5 separate regions of the Homo sapiens genome follow, and all the other regions are reported to be linked to region 5. Evidence: microRNA targets listed by miRTarBase, many of them from high-throughput screens and not tested one by one. Region 5 holds a microRNA gene; each other region holds the end of a gene's coding sequence.

The links. Region 5 holds the annotated microRNA hsa-miR-1262 (AUGGGUGAAUUUGUAGAAGGAU, at 1,318-1,339, opposite strand). A microRNA usually pairs through its seed, bases 2 to 8, with sites in the 3' UTR of a target mRNA and lowers its output. Matches are read on the target gene's strand: a 7mer-m8 pairs with bases 2 to 8, a 7mer-A1 pairs with bases 2 to 7 and ends in A, and an 8mer does both.
Region 1: miRTarBase lists AMD1 as a target of hsa-miR-1262. The part of its 3' UTR that is shown has no 7-base or 8-base seed match.
Region 2: the mRNA of TXNDC16 is a reported target of hsa-miR-1262. Seed matches in the 3' UTR shown: 7mer-m8 at 3,204-3,210.
Region 3: miRTarBase lists EHD4 as a target of hsa-miR-1262. Seed matches in the 3' UTR shown: 7mer-m8 at 3,658-3,664 and 7mer-m8 at 2,171-2,177.
Region 4: miRTarBase lists MTX3 as a target of hsa-miR-1262. The part of its 3' UTR that is shown has no 7-base or 8-base seed match.

Annotation. Positions count from the first base shown.
Region 1 is chr6:110,892,986-110,897,433 of GRCh38, reverse strand. It overlaps AMD1 (adenosylmethionine decarboxylase 1), which reads right to left. Exons shown (of 9, transcript NM_001634.6): 8 at 4,369-4,448; 9 at 1,721-3,958. The coding sequence ends at 3,818. Among named protein-coding and RNA genes, the nearest start is that of AMD1, 20 kb to the right of the region's middle.
Region 2 is chr14:52,428,887-52,432,886 of GRCh38, forward strand. It overlaps TXNDC16 (thioredoxin domain containing 16), which reads right to left. Exons shown (of 21, transcript NM_020784.3): 21 at 1,710-3,701. The coding sequence ends at 3,418. Among named protein-coding and RNA genes, the nearest start is that of PTGER2, 120 kb to the left of the region's middle.
Region 3 is chr15:41,896,641-41,901,088 of GRCh38, forward strand. It overlaps EHD4 (EH domain containing 4), which reads right to left. Exons shown (of 6, transcript NM_139265.4): 6 at 1-4,448. The coding sequence ends at 4,005. LOC105370792 (a long non-coding RNA gene) reads left to right here. Exons shown (of 4, transcript NR_135681.1): 3 at 1-881; 4 at 1,527-2,175. Among named protein-coding and RNA genes, the nearest start is that of SPTBN5, 4.8 kb to the left of the region's middle.
Region 4 is chr5:79,979,753-79,984,200 of GRCh38, forward strand. MTX3 (metaxin 3) reads right to left here. Exons shown (of 9, transcript NM_001363818.2): 9 at 1-4,042. The coding sequence ends at 3,932. Among named protein-coding and RNA genes, the nearest start is that of MTX3, 9.3 kb to the right of the region's middle.
Region 5 is chr1:68,182,259-68,186,258 of GRCh38, forward strand. MIR1262 (microRNA 1262) reads right to left here and starts at 1,352; the gene lies at 1,260-1,352. The region is part of intron 2 of WLS (Wnt ligand secretion mediator); the gene reads right to left. All of the region lies in intron 9 of GNG12-AS1 (GNG12, DIRAS3 and WLS antisense RNA 1), which reads left to right.

The DNA.
Region 1 (4,448 bases), not on the chromosome of region 5:
TATTAAGATGTTTACAAATCTAAAATCTATTGTCTGGGCCCCTAGGCCAGATATCCAACAATTTATCAGACATCCCTTGACAAGTCTGTTTCATGGTTTTCTTACCATCTTGAAGTCACATACCTCTAGCTTTGTGTTTCAAATGTCACCATAGGGTTCTATTGAGAATCCAGGAAAACTGTGGCTATTGCACAAGTCAAGATTTTTGTTTTTGAGACAGGGTTTCACTTTTGCTCGGGCTAGAGTACAGTGGTACAATCACAGCTCATTACAGCCTCAATTTCCTTTTATTTATTGTAGAGACAGGGTCTCACTATGTTGCTCAGACTGGCCTCAAACTCCTAGGCTCAAGCAATCCTCCCACCTCAGACTCCCAAACTTTTGAGATTACAGGTGTGAGCCATGGCGCCCAGCCCAAAGTTCAGTTTTGGAGTAAGAATTTGGACACTTGACCAGGTGCAGTGGCTCATGCCTGTAATTCCAACATGCTGGGAGGCAAAGGTGGGCGTATTGCTTGAGGACAGAAGTTCAAGACCAGCCTGGCCAACATGGTGAAACTTTGTCTCTACTAAAAATACAAAAATTAGCCGGGTGTGGTGGCACATCCCTGTAGTCCCAGTTACTTGGGTGACTGAGGCATGAGAATCACTTGAACCTGGGAGGTGGAGGTTGCAGTGAGCCGAGATCACGCCATTGCACTCCAGCCTGGGTGACAGAACAAAAACGTCTTAAAAAGAAAAAAAATTTTTTTTGTACACTTGCCATCATTCAAGGCACTAGCACAGAGGCCTGTGGAGGGCCCTAAGGGAAGAAAATCAGAAAATTCAAACAAACTAATGGAAATGTTTTAGGAAATCACAGGACAGTCTCTGAAAGCAGGAAAGGATGGAACCCAAATTAGCAGCACCTCTTCCATTATGACAAGAGGAAGGGCAAAGAAGATGAGATTGCAAAGCCTGAAGCCCGGAACCCAAAAAATCCATCACAATTGTCCATCCAGGAGAATAAAATCACATTTCCAGTTATGTGTCTGTGACAGAAACTTGGTGACTGCTTACTAATGAACCCCCAAATTCACTCACCTGTTTTTGGCAAATGAATCTTGTGAATTACATATTGCACAGATATGTAATATTTTGCTTTTCTAGGAACACCATCTGTTTTTAATGAAAATTGAGGAAATATTTTCTAACGGAAGCATATTCTGAGAAAGATCAGAATATACATTTTCATAAGATTTTTCAGCTTATTACATATTTGACTGTGGAACTAAAATGTTGCCAAATAAAGAAAATGACAAAGCCAAGTGTGATGGCAGAACCCTGCATTCCCAGCTACTTGGGAAGCTGCAGCAAGACTGCTTGAGCCTAGGAGTTCAAGGAAGCAGTATGCTATGATCGCACCTGTTAACAGCCACGGCACTCCAGCCTAGACAACAGAACAAGATCCTAAATTAAAAAAAATAAAGAAAATGATCAAGGTTATAAATTTTTTTCTACTTAATAGAAATAACCATGAATGAAATAAGGAAACTTATTTGAGTTTGATCATCCTCAACCAATGTTTTAAGAGTCTAGTCTATAATAAAGGTTGGGACCTAACACTTTTAAACTTCTGTCTAACTCCAAACTCATAAATACACATTGTTGTATTGATTTTAAACTTCAGACATGTAGTATTTGGTCAAGTAGGCTACTTAAAAAACAGGGCAACAGAAAAGTTTCTGAATGTCACTAGACAATTAAACTTTTATTGAAGCGTAAATTGTGGTACAGAAATACATTTCAACTGATTTAAGTCCAACACCAGTGAAAGGAGAAATTATGGCACCAAAACTTTCCCTCTTCTATCATACGATGATTTAGATTATGATTCAAACTACATTTCTCTTTTCTAGGCTTTGTCCCATAAAAATTTGTGCAGTTTTTCAACATTAGAATTCTTAATTCTATTGGAAACAAAACAAAACAAAACAAAACAAAAACAAAACCAAACCAGACCTCAAGTCAACAAATCTATTGGGATATTGTTTACGAACAAAGTCCACCTTAAGCATTGGTCCTCAAAACAGAGCTCCTCAAAATATTAGGTGCTGTGCTCATTACAGAATCAAACTGATCACACTGATTGAAAACTTCCTCAATGAAATTTTCAATCAACAACATGCTTCAAATAAAAGTCAAACAGTGTTCCAACCACTTGATTTCAAACCAAGTAGATTTTAGGTTTAGAAACACTAAAAAAAGGTGTTTCATTTATAAATACGGAAGGAACAAAAACATCACTGCATCAATCCAGAAATTATCAAAATATTTAGAGGACAAGAAATATAAAATTTAGTCAACTTTGCTGTTTTCTCAGTTCCTTAAAATCCCAGAGAATCTGCAAATATAGCTAAAAGGTACCAACTCTTGAAAGCCTATATTACTAGTCATTTCCCATTGAGTATTTTGGAATTTTATTATTCTATTTATTCATATTCTACTTATTTATAATGTATTCTGCTTTATGATGTTTATCTGAATAATCTGGACAAATTCTCATTCTGGGCAGTCATTCATTTCATCCTATGAATGCCATGGTAAGGGAAACACCGTAGTTAAGAGGAACAGATGAAGTCGGAACACTCACATGCATCACAGTCACAGAACTTTAAGTCACGAGATGGAAAAGACATTGATTCTGCTTTGGATCAAAGTTTATAGAACACTACTTAATGGAAACTAGTGGAAATGGCTGCTAAAGGAAAAGTTAAGGTGAATGATCCAAGCTGACTTGATTTACTGAATCCAGAACAAAATTATGCTAAATCTCTCTGGTAATTAACTAAATAAAAATGATTTTATACTACTACTAAGTTAGTAAAGGGGTGCTACTCATTAGACGCTAATCTCATTTACTGAGGAACACAGAATTGTATGTTTTCCACAGTTCAGCCAGTACACCCTAATCTCAATCTACAACTCTGGGTCTTCCCTGCTAACCAACTATTTTCCAAAAGAGCACATTACAATAAAAGAGAGGCTAAATTCCCATGCCCTTTAAAGAATATTAAGCCCAGGGACCATCTCCCCCATTCCCCATCTGGGGTATAGAATTAGTATATAAACCCACAGTGTTAACAGTGTATTGCTTTATTTGGGGTCTTGGGGGAGACACCAGGGAGAGGGAAGAAATCAAAGGACTATAAATGCAGGGTCCAATAATGTTAAAATAGCAAATATGCAAAATGAGTAACTGGAATCATTTTCTTAAGGACTCAACTCATGGAAGAAAAACTTTAATTGCTGTTTCCAAAAACATCAGTATGAAGTAGAAATTGGTTTCAATAACATTAGTAAAGAATATGTTCTAGAAAGTGGAGGTAACTGGATGTAAAATTCTGGCAGCAATTTAATAGAACAGTCCTAGAGGGTTAGGCTGAGGCCAACACCTAATGAGGACGAAAGCCTTGTCTGTGGGGAATTTTGGATGATACTTGGAGAAATATTACACTGTGCATAAACCAAATTGAGTTGCTTTCACAAGTGTTGTAAAGTTTCATATAGTAAAAGGTTTTTTCTACATGCACTTCAATTTCACAGCAAGAGTGGCAGAGAATACCTAAACACAGAAGAGAGCATTCATGCAAGATATCTAACTCCTTGATATAATAATGCATACAATTCAAAATGATTACACTATCATTACATCTAGGGCTTTCTGCAACTACACAGTGGTGGTTATGGAAAGCACTGCCCCCAGCATCGACATCTAGAAAGCATCCACCACCTTCTACATGTGTTCTCTTTTTGCGTTTTTTCTTCATTTTTCTTAATCAACTCTGCTGTTGTTGCTGCTTCTTAGCAAAACTGGTAAAAACAAAATTGTAATCATTGAACATAGCACTCTGGCAATCAAGACGCTTAAAACCTTCAATCTTCTGGGGCGAAGCAAGCACTGTGCGACATTTAGAACTCTGGGGGAAAAAATTAAATAACCGTTAGTGTTTGCAATCCAGAGAAGTATTTTCAACCAAAACAGTTAAGTGACAGACTTTTATCTTAATGAAACTAAGACATCTGAGTTATTTTAGCTGCCTTCTTATGTGCTGGAGGGGCCAGGGCATCTTATGGTTCCTCCCACCAGAGGCCTGTCAATAGCAAGACAGGAGGAACCCATCAGTTTGGCTAGACAGAAAACAAGGACTGACACAGGTCTAATGAAACAAAGCTTCTCAGCTACCAGTAACCTCAAACAATATTACTTCTGGATATCTGAGTGGCTGGTATATGTGCTATCTCAGAATACATCTTAGGCCTCACTGTCTCATTTCCTTTAAGATTTTAAAAATCAAATAACCTGATTAATAATAAAATATAAAATTACCTGATTAACAAACAAGGTGGTCACAAATTTTCCTGGCTTGAAGACTTCTACAACTTTCCTGATCAGGTCATCATAGGAGG
Region 2 (4,000 bases), not on the chromosome of region 5:
CTCCCTAGAGAGTATCTCCCTCTAGAAGGACAAGTTTGATTACTGTCCAGTATAATAAAGATCTATTCCTCCAGAGCAAAGGGCATGCATGCTAAATATCCATTATAACATATTTGGGCTCCCTAAACTCAGGGTTCTTTCTGTTATGCAATCCACTCTGTGTGCAGGTATCACCTGGACCTCTTCTGATAACACTGTGGGGATGCTGACACTCCGACTAATGCTACTGGTGTAATAAAGTCCTTTGTTTCCAATTCAGGAATCTGAGGCAAACTAACTTGCAAGGAGTGCTTCTAAATTCTTTATAATTTATTCTCACTTGCTTTAATGGCAGCCTCCTATTCTCTGATGAAGGCAAAACAGTTCACATATCCTGTTTCTCTTTGAAGGGGACTTGTCACTCTTTGAAATTCAGTTCCTTTGGCTACTTTCTCTGAAGGATATAAGAAAATTGATAAATTTTTGTTGTTAGGATAGGAGTAACATTGTCTTGCAGTTTTCTACGTCTTAGGTGGAAGTGAAAATCCTAAGGTGTATCTACTCGATTACTTTTTATTACTGAAATAGACACTGATTTGCAAACTCTTATTGTTCACCTTACACATATTTAATTACTTTTTAAAGAAGCATAGGCATAAGTGAGGAACTCTAGGAATTTTGAAAAACAGCTCGTGAAACATTTCATCACAAGGGCTGGAAACAATGGACCAAGGATATTTACATTCTAGCACAGGTGAGGCAGGAGAGGGTGAAATAATATGACTCATGAGACATGAAATGTTATACAAAATGTAAATATGCACTGGCGACCAACCCTACTAGAGGACCAGGAGAATATACAGGAAAGCTATAACCACTCAGGGTAGAGAGAGGGCTTTTGGAGCTCTCAAAAATGGGTAAGAGGTAGCAGAAAGACCTGAAAAGGATACAGAGGATGGTAGAAGAACAGCAAGCAGTGTCTTGGGGATTCATGGTTTTTCTATTTCTTCATTGTTTTTCCTCCTCTGCATTCACTCTCTTTTTCTGGTAAACAGAATTTGGATTTCTTTTGTGAGATTCACCCCTTCTGCATTTGAAAGTACTGTTAGGGCCGGGCGCAGTGGCTCACGCCTGTAATCCCAGCACTTTGGGAGGCCGAGGCGGGCGGATCACAAGGTCAGGAGATCGAGACCATCCTGGCTAACACAGGGAAACCCCATCTCTACTAAAAACACAAAAAATTAGCCGGGCGAGGTGGCGGGCGCCTGTAGTCCCAGCTACTCGGGAGGCTGAGGCAGGAGAATGGCATGAACCCGGGGGGCAGAGCCTGCAGTGAGCCGAGATCACGCCACTGCACTCCAGCCTGGGTGACCAAGCGAGACTCCATCTCAAATAAATAAATAAATAAATAAAATACTGTTAGGACTGCCAATTAAAGTGCCTAGTGGTCCCCTAACCAACTTTCCCAGGACTCCCTGAGTCACAAAAGATAGTAAATCAGTTGGAACCGATTCTTCACTGAGCTGTTAGTTCCTGTTACACAGAACAGACTTAGTTCCTATCCTTTCAAAGCCTACTTTACTTTTTCTTCTCTGTGAATTATCCAATATTCTCATTTTGCTTAAGTGAGCCAAAGTCGAATTTCTGTTGCTTGTAACCAAAGAAACCCAACTGATAGAGGGAGAGTGGTCCGAGAGGGCACAGTGGAGACTAAAGGAGGCTTGTGAAGGTATTCTGAAACCCAGACACTTTATTTAAAATTATGACAAACATTAATGACTGTCAAAATTGCTGACAAAGGTACAATGACTAAGCAATTTCATGTTTCTATGTGCTGGTACTTAATTAGCATTTTCTAATAATTAGGCTAATGATGTTTTATTACTACAACCTATATTTAGAGTTCACTCTCATTGTTCCCATATTAGAAATAAAAGCAAATGAAAATGAGTTTAATCAGGCATCACATGCTACAGGAAAAAAAATTGAGGAGAGGGTGCTGAGAGTAGCAACGGGTCTATGTTATAAGGAAATATATGCACTTACTGAGTTTTAGCTGTTAGATTCCTTAAATTTCAGTTATAAAAATCAGTTGTATCAGGCAAACCATATGTGAAGAAAATTTAAAGAACAAGATATCAAGTAGATATTAAAAAGAAAAATACAGTAGAGCACCAAATAGAATATTCTCAACAAATGTCTCAAAAAATGCACAGAGCAAAAATGAGACAAACAACTGCTACAAACAGATCAGTCTAACAGCTAAGTGATTTGGAATGAAAATTAACTCTTTGGCTAATCTTTCCCTCCCTCACAGAATGAGGCCGTGTGGCTCAGGGAGATCAACTGATTTGTCTGAAGCTTGCAAGGGTAGATTTCAGAGACGCTTCAGATGAGGGAGCCTCTCTTTCCATGAGGAGATGGCAGAATGCTGAATCCCTGTTCAATCTGAAATTTAGCCATATAACTTGTAGAAATAAGAGGAGGTTTTAAGACTCACTTAAAATATAAATATCATTCTGAGTCCTCTTCTAGGGTTATCCCATCACTTTCTGAAAATATTAGAAAAGATCAAGTTGTATCCAGGTAATAATCAGGATAAGACCATCTAATACATATCTTTAATAGCCAAAATTTTTTCAAACATGATACGTGAGCAGAACCAGGAAATTCTGGAAACCTAGTCTGCCACAGGTTACTTTTAACACAAGGTTACTCAGCCTTGGCACGACTACCATTTCGGGCAGGATAATTCTTTGTTGTGGGGCGCTGTCCAATGCAGGTTATTTAGCAGGATCCCTGGCCTCTACTCACTAAATGTCAATAACTGCCCTAGTCATGACATCAAAAATGTCTCCCGACAATTGCTAAATATCCCCTGAGGTTGACAAACGCTGATTTTAATATCATGACTCCAATAAAACAAATATAACTGTCAGCTGCATGAATGCACTGTGGAGTTAACTGTGATTAGAGTTTAATTTTAATCCAAATAGAAATCATGGCTAGAACTAAGTTAATTATGCTAGTTTTTGTCTAGTACTGAACTGTCCAATACAGTAGTCACAGGCCACATGTGGCAAGGAACACTTGAAATATGGCTACTCGGAAGTAAGAAATGCAGTAAGTATAAAATATGTACTGCATTTAGAAGACTTGGTACAAAAAAGGATGTAAAATATCTCATTAATAATTTCTATATTTCGCTATTTTGGGTATACTACTGGGTGAAAAGTAATATCAAAATTATTTTGCCCTGCTCACTTTTACTTTGTTTAATGTAGTTACTAGAAAATTTTAAATAAAATATGTGACTTATATTATAATTCTATTGGATGGCACTAGTCTGCAAACTTGAAATGATTTAATATTATTCTTTAAGGAAATAAATTAAGTCTATCATGCCAAAAAAATTTTGGAAACCACAGCCCTATAAAATTAGTTCACTTTTGAGCATCCTAACTCTTTATCACGTCTAAATGATTTTTCTGCTTCTTTAAACCAATTACTTCTATTCCAATGCTTTATTCTCAGAGTTTCAATCGGTTCTTTTCTGACTGCCGATTTATCTTCATGTTGTTCCTTATCATTCTCCTGCACATCTGTTTCTTTCATACACTTGGGAACTTTCCTAGTGCCACGTTGAGATGTTGCGGCATCTATCATACTTAGAAAATCATAAGCTGGAAGAGGAGGTTTCCATTCTTGAGCAGGTAAAATTGCTGGAAGGAAGAAACAATCAAAGGTTAAAGATTAACAGCTATAAATCGTCACATCAACATATTAGAAAATGTTTTATTTTGAAAAATATATTTGTAGAAGTGAAAGTTTTATTAGTTTTACTTATCTAAGCAAAGCTAGGAATTTTTTTACTGTCATTGTCAACAAGAAATTTGATACATTTGTCACTACTAGCCATTTTCATTTTTAGATTACATTTACAAGCTATTATTTTCTTTAAAAAAAGTATGAATAGGGGAAAAAAGGTCCATAATCTCAATGCCGATTAACCTTTGCTAAG
Region 3 (4,448 bases), not on the chromosome of region 5:
GGCACACTGGCAAGGTACAGCAAGAGGCAGGGGCAGTGCTGGACAGGCAGGGGCTCCTCCCTAGCACGACTGGAGAAAGGACTCCTGTGAAGCGGTCACCTCCATGAGTCCCTCCTGTCCTGGCTTCCAACCACTCTGAAGTGGGGCTTTTGTCCACAGACCTGGCCTCTGCTGCCTACCCTCTTCTGTCCCCACCTGATGGGGCCGCTTTCCTTCTGAAGCGGCTGCATTTTGGGTTTCTCTCCACAGGAAGAGTTGGGGCTCACAGGCACACCCTCTCCCTAACTCTTCTCCCCCGGTTCAACCTGGATCCAGGGATCCACACTCTGCTCCGAGAGGCCAGCACGCAGCCACTGGAAAATGAGCCAGTGGGAGAGGGCAGCTCCATGTTTATTGATCAGCAGACTATGTCTTTTTGTTTGAAACTTCTAAATAAGATTACAAAAAGAAAAAAAATAGAAGCATTGCGTATTAACTGCATTGGTTAACCAACATTGGAACCCAATACTCTTGTATTAGGCCCGCATTTACCTGAGTAAACTCAGTGGTTTTCTGTCCTAAGCATGCTTGCCTGCTACATCCCATGGAGAAAATAAACAGTGAAACACTTTCCTCATCTTCAAGGCAATTGTCTCAGGCATCCTCCAGGCATCATGAAGGAGGGTGAGCGAGGGTGCGAGGTGGAAAGGTCCAGGCCGCGGCTGTGACTCCCGCGGGTGAACCACAGCTCCACAGCCCCAAATCCAAAGATGCTCTTGCTGCAGCACGACAAGTGTTCAAAAGAGAACCAGGCCCAGCCCGGAGAAAGGAAAGCCAAAAGCCAACTGAATGAATGACCCTCCCCCAGAAGAGCAACCCTGCCCCCAGGCCATCCAAGTGCGGTGAGTTGAGAAATGAATTGACAGACGCTGCAGGGCTGGAGCAGGAGGCGGAAGCAGGTTGGAAGGCTGTTGTGTGCCACCCCTCCCTGGGAGCTGGGGAGATTCCCAAGTCTTAGTGCAGTGTTTCTCTACAAACGGGGTCAGGAGACCCTCACTGGCAGGCTGACAACTTGGAAGCAGACTGTGGGAGCAATAGGCTGGAGTTTTCATTTTCCCTTTAAACTCAAGACCGGAAGGTTTGTGTTATGCGATACCATATGCTGTGTAGAAAACAGGGCCTCAGCTTCTTAGATGTTGTAGTTCTAGAGTTTAGGTACTTCCACCCTCTCTCCTATACATAAACACTCTGTGGAAGAGGTTCTTTGAAAATTGGGGTGGTGCAGGAAGGGCAACGGTGATGGTGAGCAGGCCCCAGGGTCGGCCCTGCCGCCCTGCCGTGTGGGGTAGGGAGACAGCTGGTGGTGTGGACACATTCACAGAACTTTGTACTGGTCCTGGGAAGATACAAGTCCTCACTTGGTCGCCATCCCTCATATTTTCTAGTGTTTTCTTTTCCAGTCAACTTTTCTTGATGAATGACTGCATGTAAGAGGATATTAAGAAAAGTGGCCAAATGATTTCCTTTTTTTTTCCTTTCTCTCCAAGAACATTACCAGGTGCCAGCAGGGAAAGGACTCCGCTGCCTGACGCCTCTCCCACCTGAGAGCGCAGAGGTAGGGAGATCACAGTGCCTGAGAGGTTTTCCTCCACGGAGAAATCAGAGACCTCAACCTGCTGCCCTCTAAAGCAGCTTTCTGTATCCAGACAAAACTTACATATGTACACGTTGTTTTAAAACGACATACTCATGTGACACACATGTATATAAATTCATGTTTATATATGACAATTGAGGAGAGTTAAAGAACAAGATAATTCTGGATGGAAAAATCAGTTTGCCTGGGCATCTGTAAACCTTTGGGCAAGTGAATTCCCTCTTCTCTCTCAGTTCACCCTTTGGTGACCTCCACCGTGGCTGCAGACTTCAGGTGGTCCTCACGCATTCACAGAACTGTCTGCTTAGGTTACAGCACTTTGGGAGGCCGAGGTGGGTAGATCACGAGGTCAGGAGATCGAGACCATATTGACCAACATGGTAAAACCCCATCTCTACTAAAATACAAAAATTAGCCGGGCGTGGTGGCGGGTGCCTGTAGTCCCAGCTACTTGGGAGGCTGAGGCAGGGGAATCACTTGAACCTGGGAGGCGGAGGTTGCAGTGAACTGAGATTGCGCCACTGCACTCCAGCCTGGGTGACAGAGACTTCCTCTCAAAATAAAAATAAAAATAATAAAATAATAAATGGTTCTTTTCTATGCGTCTAATGAATTTAAGTGCTTGTTAAGACTAAAAACCATGTTATGCATTTCCTGCTCTTAAAACTAAATTATGTAGAAAGTAAGCTAGGGAGTGTAAGGGTAGGCATCTGGATATAAATGCTTCTCCCAAATCAAGATTTTCTCTTCAATCTGTGCCTTTGACCCTGTCACCAAAGGCAGGTGACAGAAAAAAAAAATTATGTGCCTTTTGGAAGACTCAGTGGGACGGTTCTGATTTCATTCACTTCTGGTGCCAGCAGGCCCCCATACCATGTGGCCATTGCTGTTTCGTGTCTCTTCCTGCATAAATAATGCAGAGAGGCCATGCAGGTATGCAATTTTCTGGAGATGAGGCAGGGAGATTTGCAAGGAAAAGTCACCTACCTCCCCAAGCTGGTGCCCACAGAGGGGGAGGCACCTCCACCTGACGCAGGTGTCTGAGCAGCAGTCCAGAGAGGTTTACTCAGGGGATTTGGGGAGCGCACACTCTGGAGCAGAAGTACAGGTATGTGCCCGAATCCTGCCTCGTGATGGGCATTCATGATACGAACCACACAGCCTTTAAAGAAAAGGTTTTATATGAAAGGTTCCATTTTGTTTCTGTATAAAGGCTTTTATCCTGTAAGGAAAAAAAAAAAACACAAAACCCTAGACATAATAAATGCCTGTTTTCTACAAAAACAATGTCTAACTCTGGGTGGACTGATCTCTTCTCAACAGCCCAGGGCAGGGCTGGTCCCTCATTCACCTGTGTCCACAGGGCCGAAGACACTGCACACACTAGGACAGGATTTGATTGAATTTAAATCCTGCCACCCACCAAGGAGACCTCGGGATATTTAATGTTTGAGGGCCACACTAAACGATCACTGCAGAGAACCACCTCTTTTCTTTACTGTAGTTTAAGTATGATAAGTGGGCTTTGCTATTACTTATTGGAAAAACCAGTAAGAAAAGCTAATTTTCAGGCTTCAATGTGATTTGACATGCAAACGGGAAGTTTTGCCAGGGGTTAATAAAGGTTGTGAATTCCAAATTCCTAGCCGAATATGGCTTTGCTGGTAAGCCCCCTGGAAGGGAGGTTGGGAGGGCTGACCAGATGGTCATCGGGGCACTGGGATGGAGGCACGCTGGGGCCTGACTGCCTGCTCTGCTGGAGACTGCAGAATGGATGGCAGATCCACAGTGCATCCCCCTTCCAAACCCAGGAGGCATCTGTCGCCTTCTCTTTGGTAGACAGTCTGGAGACAGCAGAAACCCTCTGCTCTATTTTTTTGCCACTCTAAATATAGCAGAAAACAAAATAAAATAAATAAGATAATCTTTGCTGCCTCCAGGTGCCCTCTGAGGGACAGACAGCTGCTCCAGAGTTGTTCATGAGGACAAAAAGCCCAGGCAGCCTGGAGACCCAGCTGCTCTGGGTGAGCCTTAGCTCACTTCCTGTGGTTCCTGGGACTTACCAGGCCCACCCCCATGCGCATTTCTCCAGGCAGGTTCTGAGGACTCTTTGGACAATTTCTCTTTCTTCTCAACCCTTCAATCTCCTAATCCACCCCCCTACCCCCAATATTTTCATAGAAACTAAGGGAATTTTGGAGGTGAAAGAAGTCATCTAGTTTCCAGTGTCCACCCTCCCCATTCTACAGATGGGGAAACCAAGGCACAGAGAGGGCAGTGCCTTGCCCAAGGTCATTCGGTGAGTCAGTGGTGGAGCAGGCCTGAGGCCCAGGTCCCCCAGTTCCCACCCCGTTCTGCAGCCCACCCCTCAGTCGGCCTTGGGCAGGGACTTCCTGTGCGAGGGGGGCACGAGGTGGGGGGGCAGGCTGCTGGGCAGCTCGTAGCCGTCGAGCTTGATCTTGATGAGGTGCTTGGCCAGCGCGAACTCCTCCTCATCAAGCATGCCGTCGCAGTCGCAGTCGGCCAGCTTCCAGATCTTGCCCAGGACGCTGTTGGGCAGCTTGGAGGTCACCATCTCCTTCTTGGCGTTGACACCTGATATCTTGCCATTGATGGGCGACAGAGTGTAGAAGAGCTCGTCGTAGACGGGCTTGTCTTTGGCCACGACCCACTCCTCCTCGTCGGCGCCCTCCTTGGCACCCTCCCCGTAGCCCTGGTTGAAGGGGCCCTCGGTGGTGCCATCGAAGGCGCCGCCCTGCACCAGCTGCGTGGGCGTGCTCGTCTCCTCCTGGCTGATGAGGTTCATGAGGGG
Region 4 (4,448 bases), not on the chromosome of region 5:
TTTTAGGGTTTTTTTTTTCTTTTCTGGTAAGGCAAAATAGATCTTTAGATATCATTTGTTACAAACATGAGTTTTTCTTAAGAATGAAATAAAAATTCTATTTAACTTCTATCATATATTTATTCAACTAAGTTGAATACTATGTTTAGAAAATTAAAGTTTTAAATCATGGTTTATATATAGATAATGATACATTTAATCTATGAATTTACTTTAAAACCACTTTTATTTTGAAATACTTAAGACTCACAAGAAGTTATAAAAATAGTTCAGAGAGATCCCAGGTACCCACTGCTTAGCTTCCTTTCTTTACATGTAAGCATTTATATCTAGGTTTTAAAAGGGTTGAAGTTTTTGACAGTTGATGAAAAACTGTCAAAAAATTGTAACAAGCCTGGTAAATGCATATTTTTGGAGGAGGTTCTAAGGAAACACTACCAAGTTCAAGTACCACTTTTATCACATGCAGCTGCCTTAACCAACAGGTTTTCTAAGATACTATCCCCCTTACCTGTTTCTGCCTCTTTCAATGGTGTTTTTCCATTTTTACAGACTTCTGAAAATTTTAGCTTTGATTGAAATAAGCTTCCCCATTCCTTCATGTTAATATATCTAGCAATATTGAATAGAAATTATAAATGGAAATAAAAATGCTTGCTTTTATAAAATCTCCAGTCTCGCAGCACCCCCAATATAATACAAACAAACTTAAGTTGAAATTTGGTTTGTTAATGCCCACCTTGTGTGGTCAAAACACAGTTTTGAAGGAATGACCACCTTCAATGTTCTTTACAGCTTCTTTAGTGTTACTTAAAAAAAAAAAAAAAATCAATCTGATGGATGATTGATGGTAGTTTGTTCATGGAAGATCTTCATCTTATGGGAATTATCTAGTTTTTCTAATCATATACTACCAACAAAAATAAACACAAGCATGTTCCCTTTAATCATATTATCCTCCACCATTACTTCCAAAAGGCATTGGCTCACAGTATTCTGTTTAAGATTGTGGACCATTTATCCCAATGAACTCACTCAAACTTTATCTAAAACATATCATGACAGGCTGGTCCAACAGTCTGTTCAGTCTGAAAAAATGTTCTGTGCTCTGTTCAGATTGACAAAATGTTCTTTTTGGCCGGGCGCAGTGGCTCACGCCTGTAATCCCAGCACTTTGGGAGGCCGAGGCAGGTGAATCACTTGAGGTCAGGAGTTCAAGACCAGCCTGAGCAACATGGTGAAACCCCGTCTCGACTAAAAAAAAAACAAAATTAGCTGGGCATGGTGGCACATGCCTGTAATCCCAGCTACTTGGGAGGCTGAGACAGGAGACTTGCTTGAACCCAGGAGGTAGAGGTTGCAGTGAGCCGAGACTGCGCTACTGCACTCCAGCCTGGGCAACAAGAGTGAAACTCTGTCTCAAAAAAAAAAAAAAGTTCTTTTCTAAGAGCTTCCTGTATGTGTGGCTGCTCCCTAAAGTACTTTGTGCTCAGTTACAGCTTCCTGTCATCTCATTTACTTATACATAAATAGCTCAACTAAGTAACCCAACATATAAACTCTCACTAAACTCACATGTTGCATCTTAGAAAAGGTGATCTGGAAGCATTATGGACTATAGTGAGAATGTAAGGCTAACAGCAGTTCAAAGTAGGGATGACACAAAAACAAATAAATCATATTGACAGTCATTCCCTCTACTAAAAAAGAATAATACTTGTTATTCTAAAATGACCTCTTTTGATTAAAATTTCAGTTCATAAAACATTACAGTATGCTTCTTTATCAAAGTCTACATATCAGAAGAACATGAGCTCCACGTTCCTGTAAAACTTTAAACACATTTTTCTTCCTAATAGACATTAGCAGTTTTGTTGAAAAGAAAAATTGACATAACCTAGCATTATCTTTTGACTTTGCCCATGGAGAAACTTGGAGTTAAATTTACTACTTAATTTTAGAATCTGTCAGTGTTGATATGGTTCTATAAATTTTTAATTTTTTTAATTTAAATTTTTAAAATTTTTAATTCTTTAAAATTTAAAATTTTTAAATTGTCCTGTTTTACATGTAATATACTTGTAATATACATGTAATGTACTTGTACGTTATAACTGTAATATATTTCAAATACTTTTTGGAGGGTCTGATATAAATCTGATATAAATTAAAAATGACTGGCCTTGACCACAGCATAAGCAGATGTCTGATGAATGTGCTAACCACCCTTCTCCAATATACATCCATCCTAGAGGACAATAAAGTCTCACAGTCATGATTTCCAATATAACATATTTAGGTTTCAGACTGCTGGAATAATAGATTTCAGATTGCTGGAATCTAATAATCTGCCTTTGAAGATGACTGACACACACAAACACACACACACACACCCTGTTGTAGAAGTAATGTGCAACTCATGAGGTACTTTCCCTCATCCAAACAGATGACCAAGATTTTGAAGACTACCTTATTTCTCACTTAGTTAAAACTTTCAAGAAAAAATATTTAGAATGACTTAAAGACTCTTGTATAAATAACTACCTAAATACAGAACAAATTGGGAGGATGTGGGTCAAACACAGCTGAGCTCCACTCAGCTCAAATTAGATGAGTCTTTTGACTACAAAGCTCATTTTCTTAACATATGGGTTCCTGCACGACTTGATAAGATTTGCTGAGCACCACAGTAATCTTTTAAGACACTAATCAAAAACATGGTTCTACATTTTAAAAACCTCAGAAGTAGTTTTAGGACAACAGAAGCACCTCAACCACTAAAATAAGCAAGTTTCTATTATAAGTAAAATTACCACACAGCAAATCCCTTAACAGTTCAGCAACCAATAAATAGAAAATATTCATTAAAAGCTGCTATTTCTGATTGTTCCTTTGTATTCTTCGACTATAAGTGAAACATATGAAAAATAATTGGTTGTCAGAAAGCTTTTGACTACATGATATGCATCTTATGAAAGAATATGCATCTTATGAAAGAATATGAGCCAAGCATAGAAAACTTGGACCAGATGCACAGTATTTCTACTACCCTGGCCATGGGCTCCTCCTGAGTAGTGTCTAACAAGTGGGCAATTTCAGTAAGAATTTTACAGCCTAGCATAGTAACGATAACCAGTACATTCACTTCTTCTGGAATTAATACAAGAAAGACAACTGAAGATGTACTACAAAGACATAGGTCTAAAACTGCCACATTTGCCCAAGTAAACTAAAAGAACTCTTCCTAACCTATATCGAACACATCAGCAAAGACCAATGTTATACTGAAATGAGTATTATCAGATGTTATTATATGTAACCACCTTTAATATTTATCTATGTGCTACTAAACCCCCAAAAGATTAGACTTATGAGAGCATAATTAAAAAGCACATTCCTCCTCACTTTTTAAAGTTAAATATGGTCTCTTCTACTGAAGCAATTTATCTTTTTCTGGTTCCTAAAATAGGCATCAAATTTCTAAACAGAAGTAAAAAGCCTCAGCCAAAAAGCCACATATTAGGTATTCAGCCTGGTCTAAGAAAACTAAGTTAATAAATTGAATAAATTAAATCAAATAAATTAGGAGTGCACATTCAGAACAGAATTGTAGCCTTTGGTCAGCAACATGTGAACCAAAGGCAAAAATCTGCCATGATTAAGGCAGTTCTTTGTATACAGTACGATGTGTTTTTCTTCCCCGCCCCCCCAACCAAGTTCATTTAGCATTCTCTTTGTTATTAAAAATGCAGTGCCAAGCTAGAATACAAGCTTCCTAATAATAATAGTAAAAATAGATGGCATAGAAAGTTCCTTTTGGTTTAGAGTCTTCCTTAATACCTATTATGGTATCTTCTTTTTGCCTTCACACACTTGGTGTAAGAGATTACTGCAACAATCGTTTGACTTTGGCCACAAACCATGACTACTCTCAGGGCGAAAGCCGTTGGAAGGAATTATTTTCTTCTTCTGCTGGAGTCAATTTAAGTGTTGGCAGTTTCCGAGGAGGAAGCTGAGGGCTTTGGCGAAGATTGTCATCCATCTGTAGAAAGTACAAAAGATACATCTGACTAATGCTGTGGCACCGCTTATGTGGACTGTGGCCTCCCCATCCAAACTATAGCCTAGAAGAGTACAGAACCATATGTTTCCTGGGCTGCTAGAGAAACCTTTTTCTTACAAATAATCTCAAGAATTCTAAATGTCATACCTCAAATACCAGCTGACTCAGTTTCTGTAAAAAGCAACGTGGCTCATTCCTGATACCTTCACAGAATTATAGTTAATTCCACAAAATAAATATTCTACTGAACTCAACCATAACTTAAAGAGGTCTTCTGATAGTAAGTGTAAAAGCGGTACTGTTACACTAAGCTCCAGTTTGCAAACTATGTTCACGTACAGTATCTTATTTGATCTTCCCGATACGCTATGAAGAAAAGGCAGAC
Region 5 (4,000 bases):
AGCTCTATAGCGATGCCTATGGAGGAGCCTTATAATGATGTTGTCCAAGTAATGTGCTTAACAATAATCACACTCAAAGCCAAAGGTTCCCATGCTCCTGCCAATATAACATGCTCACAACGGTCAATTCCAAAGGAAGAGCTGTCAAGAAGTGCCTGAAGATTTCCTCAAAGGGAGAGATAATTCATGAGCAAACAAACATCATGTCCCTAATCTTCTCTATCCTGGGGTAAACAAAATATAGTTTTCTCCCATGATTTCAGTTGCTTTCTATACCAAGTCAGTAAGTAAAACTGATTCATACTGGTAACTTCCAGGTTCCAGCCTTGGTTTGAAGGGGCACACAATTCAATAAGAGTAAAGAAGACTGGCCATGTAAGCCCATCTTGAATACTGACAACTTCCGTACCATTTACCTAACACTACAAACCCTACTCCATTTAAGTCTCTGAGATCTTTTTGATGTATTTTGAGCTTTTCAACTTGCCTTTTTTGGTGGGAGAGGAGGGAGGAGGAGAACAAAGGGAGAATTTGAAGTTTTTATTTCTGCTTGCATTGACTCAAATTGTGGTAAAGAAACTTAAAAGGTAACTTTAAAATTCTAGTGACACTAGCCAACAATGAAAACTATCTAATTAGAATGTTAGAGGTTTTTTTTGTTTGAGACAGAGTTGCTCTGTTGCCCAGGCTGGAGTGCAGTGGTGCGATCTCGGCTTGCTGCAACCTCCACCTCCCAGGTTCAAGTGATTCTCCTGCCTCAGCCTCCCAAGTAGCTGGGATTACAGGCACACGCCACCATGCTGGGCTAATTTTTGTATAGACAGGGTTTCACCATATTGGTCAGGCTGGTCTTGAACTCCTGACCTCAGGTGATCCACCCACCTCAGCCTCCCAATGTGCTGGGATTACAGGTGTGAACCACTGTGCCCAGCCAAAATGTTAGATAGTTTTAACACAGGCTATAACATAGTCATAAATTAAAGAAGACATGGTCGTAAATGAAAGAAGACCTCTTTTTGGTGGGAGTAGTAGTAGGGGTGGGAGAGTAGAGTTATACATTTCTTCTTAGCAGTTGCTTCAACATATTTTATTAATAAGGACTATCTGCTGAAGCACAGAAATACAATTATGTGAATATCATACTACCAATGGCCTGTTCCATCATAGCAGGGATAGTTCTTATAGTGTATAAAATCCTCTGCCCCATTCAGCTCTCTTTATGGAGCTTTCCTCAGAAGCATCAGAAAACACAGAATTAAATATCACAATTCTTGTTGAAGGCCAAAAATTAGTTCCCAGAAGGATTCTTTGACTTTCATCCTTCTACAAATTCACCCATCACCATTGTAGATAATGTGAGGGGTGAATTTGTAGAAGGATGAAATTCAGAGAATTGTTTATGATCAATAGATTGTTCCCTTTATTCCAGTTGTCTTCCCTTGATGTCCACTTAACATTCCATAATAAATGGACAAATGGAAAAGCACAATTACTCTGCCAAAAGTCAGTCAACATTCTCCCAGGACACTCAGCCATCTAACTTGAAAACTGACTGGTAATAATATCATTCTAATTACTTTAACTAGAAATTTGTTATACAGAAATGCTTTCAGTGTGGGGAAAGAAAAATCACTTGCCACTTATAGAAAGAATTCTGCTTCATGTGACCATTTGCAATAATGAAACAAGTAAGACAACACTGGGTTCCAGTGTACAGCACAAGGATCAAGGCGAAACATAATGCTTTCATTACGTAAGAATAGGACTGACATTATTCTGGCTTTCCCCTACCCTTCATCATTTACCAATATTTTTTCAGTCTCAGGAATTTTTCAACCCCTGAAACTCCTAGATTTACTACTCAAGACACAGCTATCCATCTTGAGGCTTTCTGCCAATGGCTCTAGTGCTTCTATTTCAACAGCTTATAGATTTGAAAGCTGGAAAGAGAGATATGTAAACAAATTCTCTAACTTTGATCTATGCACCCAGGTTTCTCAAAAGAAGCCCTTGGAGAGTCTGGGGTATACTAAGTGTATGACTTGCAGTTGTAATCATTAGAGTGACAACCCATTTCCAGTGGGTACCGTTTTAGCCAACCCAAACCTTTCTTTTCCTAATGCATAGAGTGACTTTTTAAAAAATGGTATATTTGGGAAAGTATTTTAGAATGGCATGTTAACAAAACAAAAACACTCTAGAATATATTTTCAAATAACAGAACTTGGCCTTACCAAGAGGTCTAATACCATCAGGTAAATAATCATTTTTATCAGTGATTCATAATACATCCAGACTCTAAATGTTAAGGCTGACTTTTTTCTGACACTCTTCTCTGCCTATTCATACTCCATTTCCTAACTCCTTTAGAGTAAAAATTGAAATCCCATATCCCTAACAACTAGACAGAAGCATCATGTTTACATCCTGACAAATTCATTAATTCTGTACCTCTGAAATATTTAGCAAAAAGCCAGCACTGACTCAATCATAGATTTCCACAGACAGGTCTGTTCATATTTGTAATTGGTATTCACTGAAAGGTCAATGACTCCTGTTCCCAAGTATCTATGAGTCTCTAGATTTTCTTAATTGGCCTCTTTTCCTCAGCTCTTACAGACTATTGTTTTAAAACTACCACCATTTAGAAGTTGAACTCCGAGTGAGGGGAAAAACAAACAAACAAGCAAACAAAAAAAACACTTTTTGATTCCCACTCCACTCATAATCAACATAACACAGACTACTTCTGACCCAGGTGTGATGGAAGGAGCGGGGCACAGAGTCGGGGGAGGTTTCTCCACACACCAAGCAAGCAATCAATCACTTCCACAGCAGACATCAGCTGGGTGTCCAAAAATTCAATTTTGACACCACTTACCTGGAAATAGCATCAAGTCTCATAGGTTGAAAGCTCAGTCCCATAAGACTGCTCCCCACTTCAGATGCCCATCGAAAAAACAGGTTGTGGCCTGTTATAAATACGCGTTCCCATGACCCTCCTCCTTAGGATTGATTGATTTGCTACAGAGGCTCACAGAACTCAGGGAAACACTTAACTTATGCACGTTATAAAGGATATGACAAAGGATACACATGAACAACCAGATAAAAGATTGATAGGGTAAGGCATGTGGTATGGCAGGGATCCCTGACCCTCTGGCAGCAGACAGGTACCAGTCAGTGGCCTGTTAGGAACTGAGCCATATAGTAGGGGGTAAGAGGTGGGTGAGCAAGTATTATAGCCTGAGTTCTGCCTCCTGTCAGATCAGCTGGCATTATATTCTCATAGGAGTGGGAACCCTATTGTGAAGTATTCATGCAAGGGATCTAGGCTGCATGCTCCTTATGAGAATCTAATGCCTGATGATCTGAAGCGGAACCATTTCATACCCAAACCATCCCCCATCCCCTCATCTGTGGAAAAAGTGTCTTCCATGAAACCGGTCCCTGGTGCCCAAAAAGTTGAGGATGGCTATGATAAGGCACAGAGCATCCCTGTCCTCTCTAGGGTGCCATGCTCCGGGAACCTCTGCAAGTTCAGCTGTCTGGAAGCTCCCAGAACCCAGTCCTTTTGAGTTTTTATGGAGGCTTCATTACCTAGGCATGACTGATTACATTATTGGCCATAAGCGAGTGACTCAATCTTTAGGCCTCTTCCCTCCTGGCTGTTGGTGGGTGGGGCTGAAATTAGTTCCCCACCCTTCTAATCATGCCTTGGTCTTTCAGGTGACCATTCTGAAGCTATCTGGGAGTCCCCAGCCATCAGTTGACTCATTAGCATGCAAAGAGGCATTCCTATCACTCAGGAGATTCCAAGAATTTTAGAAGCTGTGTATCAGGAAATTTATTACTATAAAGTACCTTATAATGCCATCATTTTTCTCCCAAAGGCACTGGCTTGATTAAATTCAGAAATTAAAACAATGGCCAGCTTCTATAGTGTAAGTCAATGCTTTTCTAGTTTTCTGAGGGTTTGGAAACTCAAATCCTAGCTAAA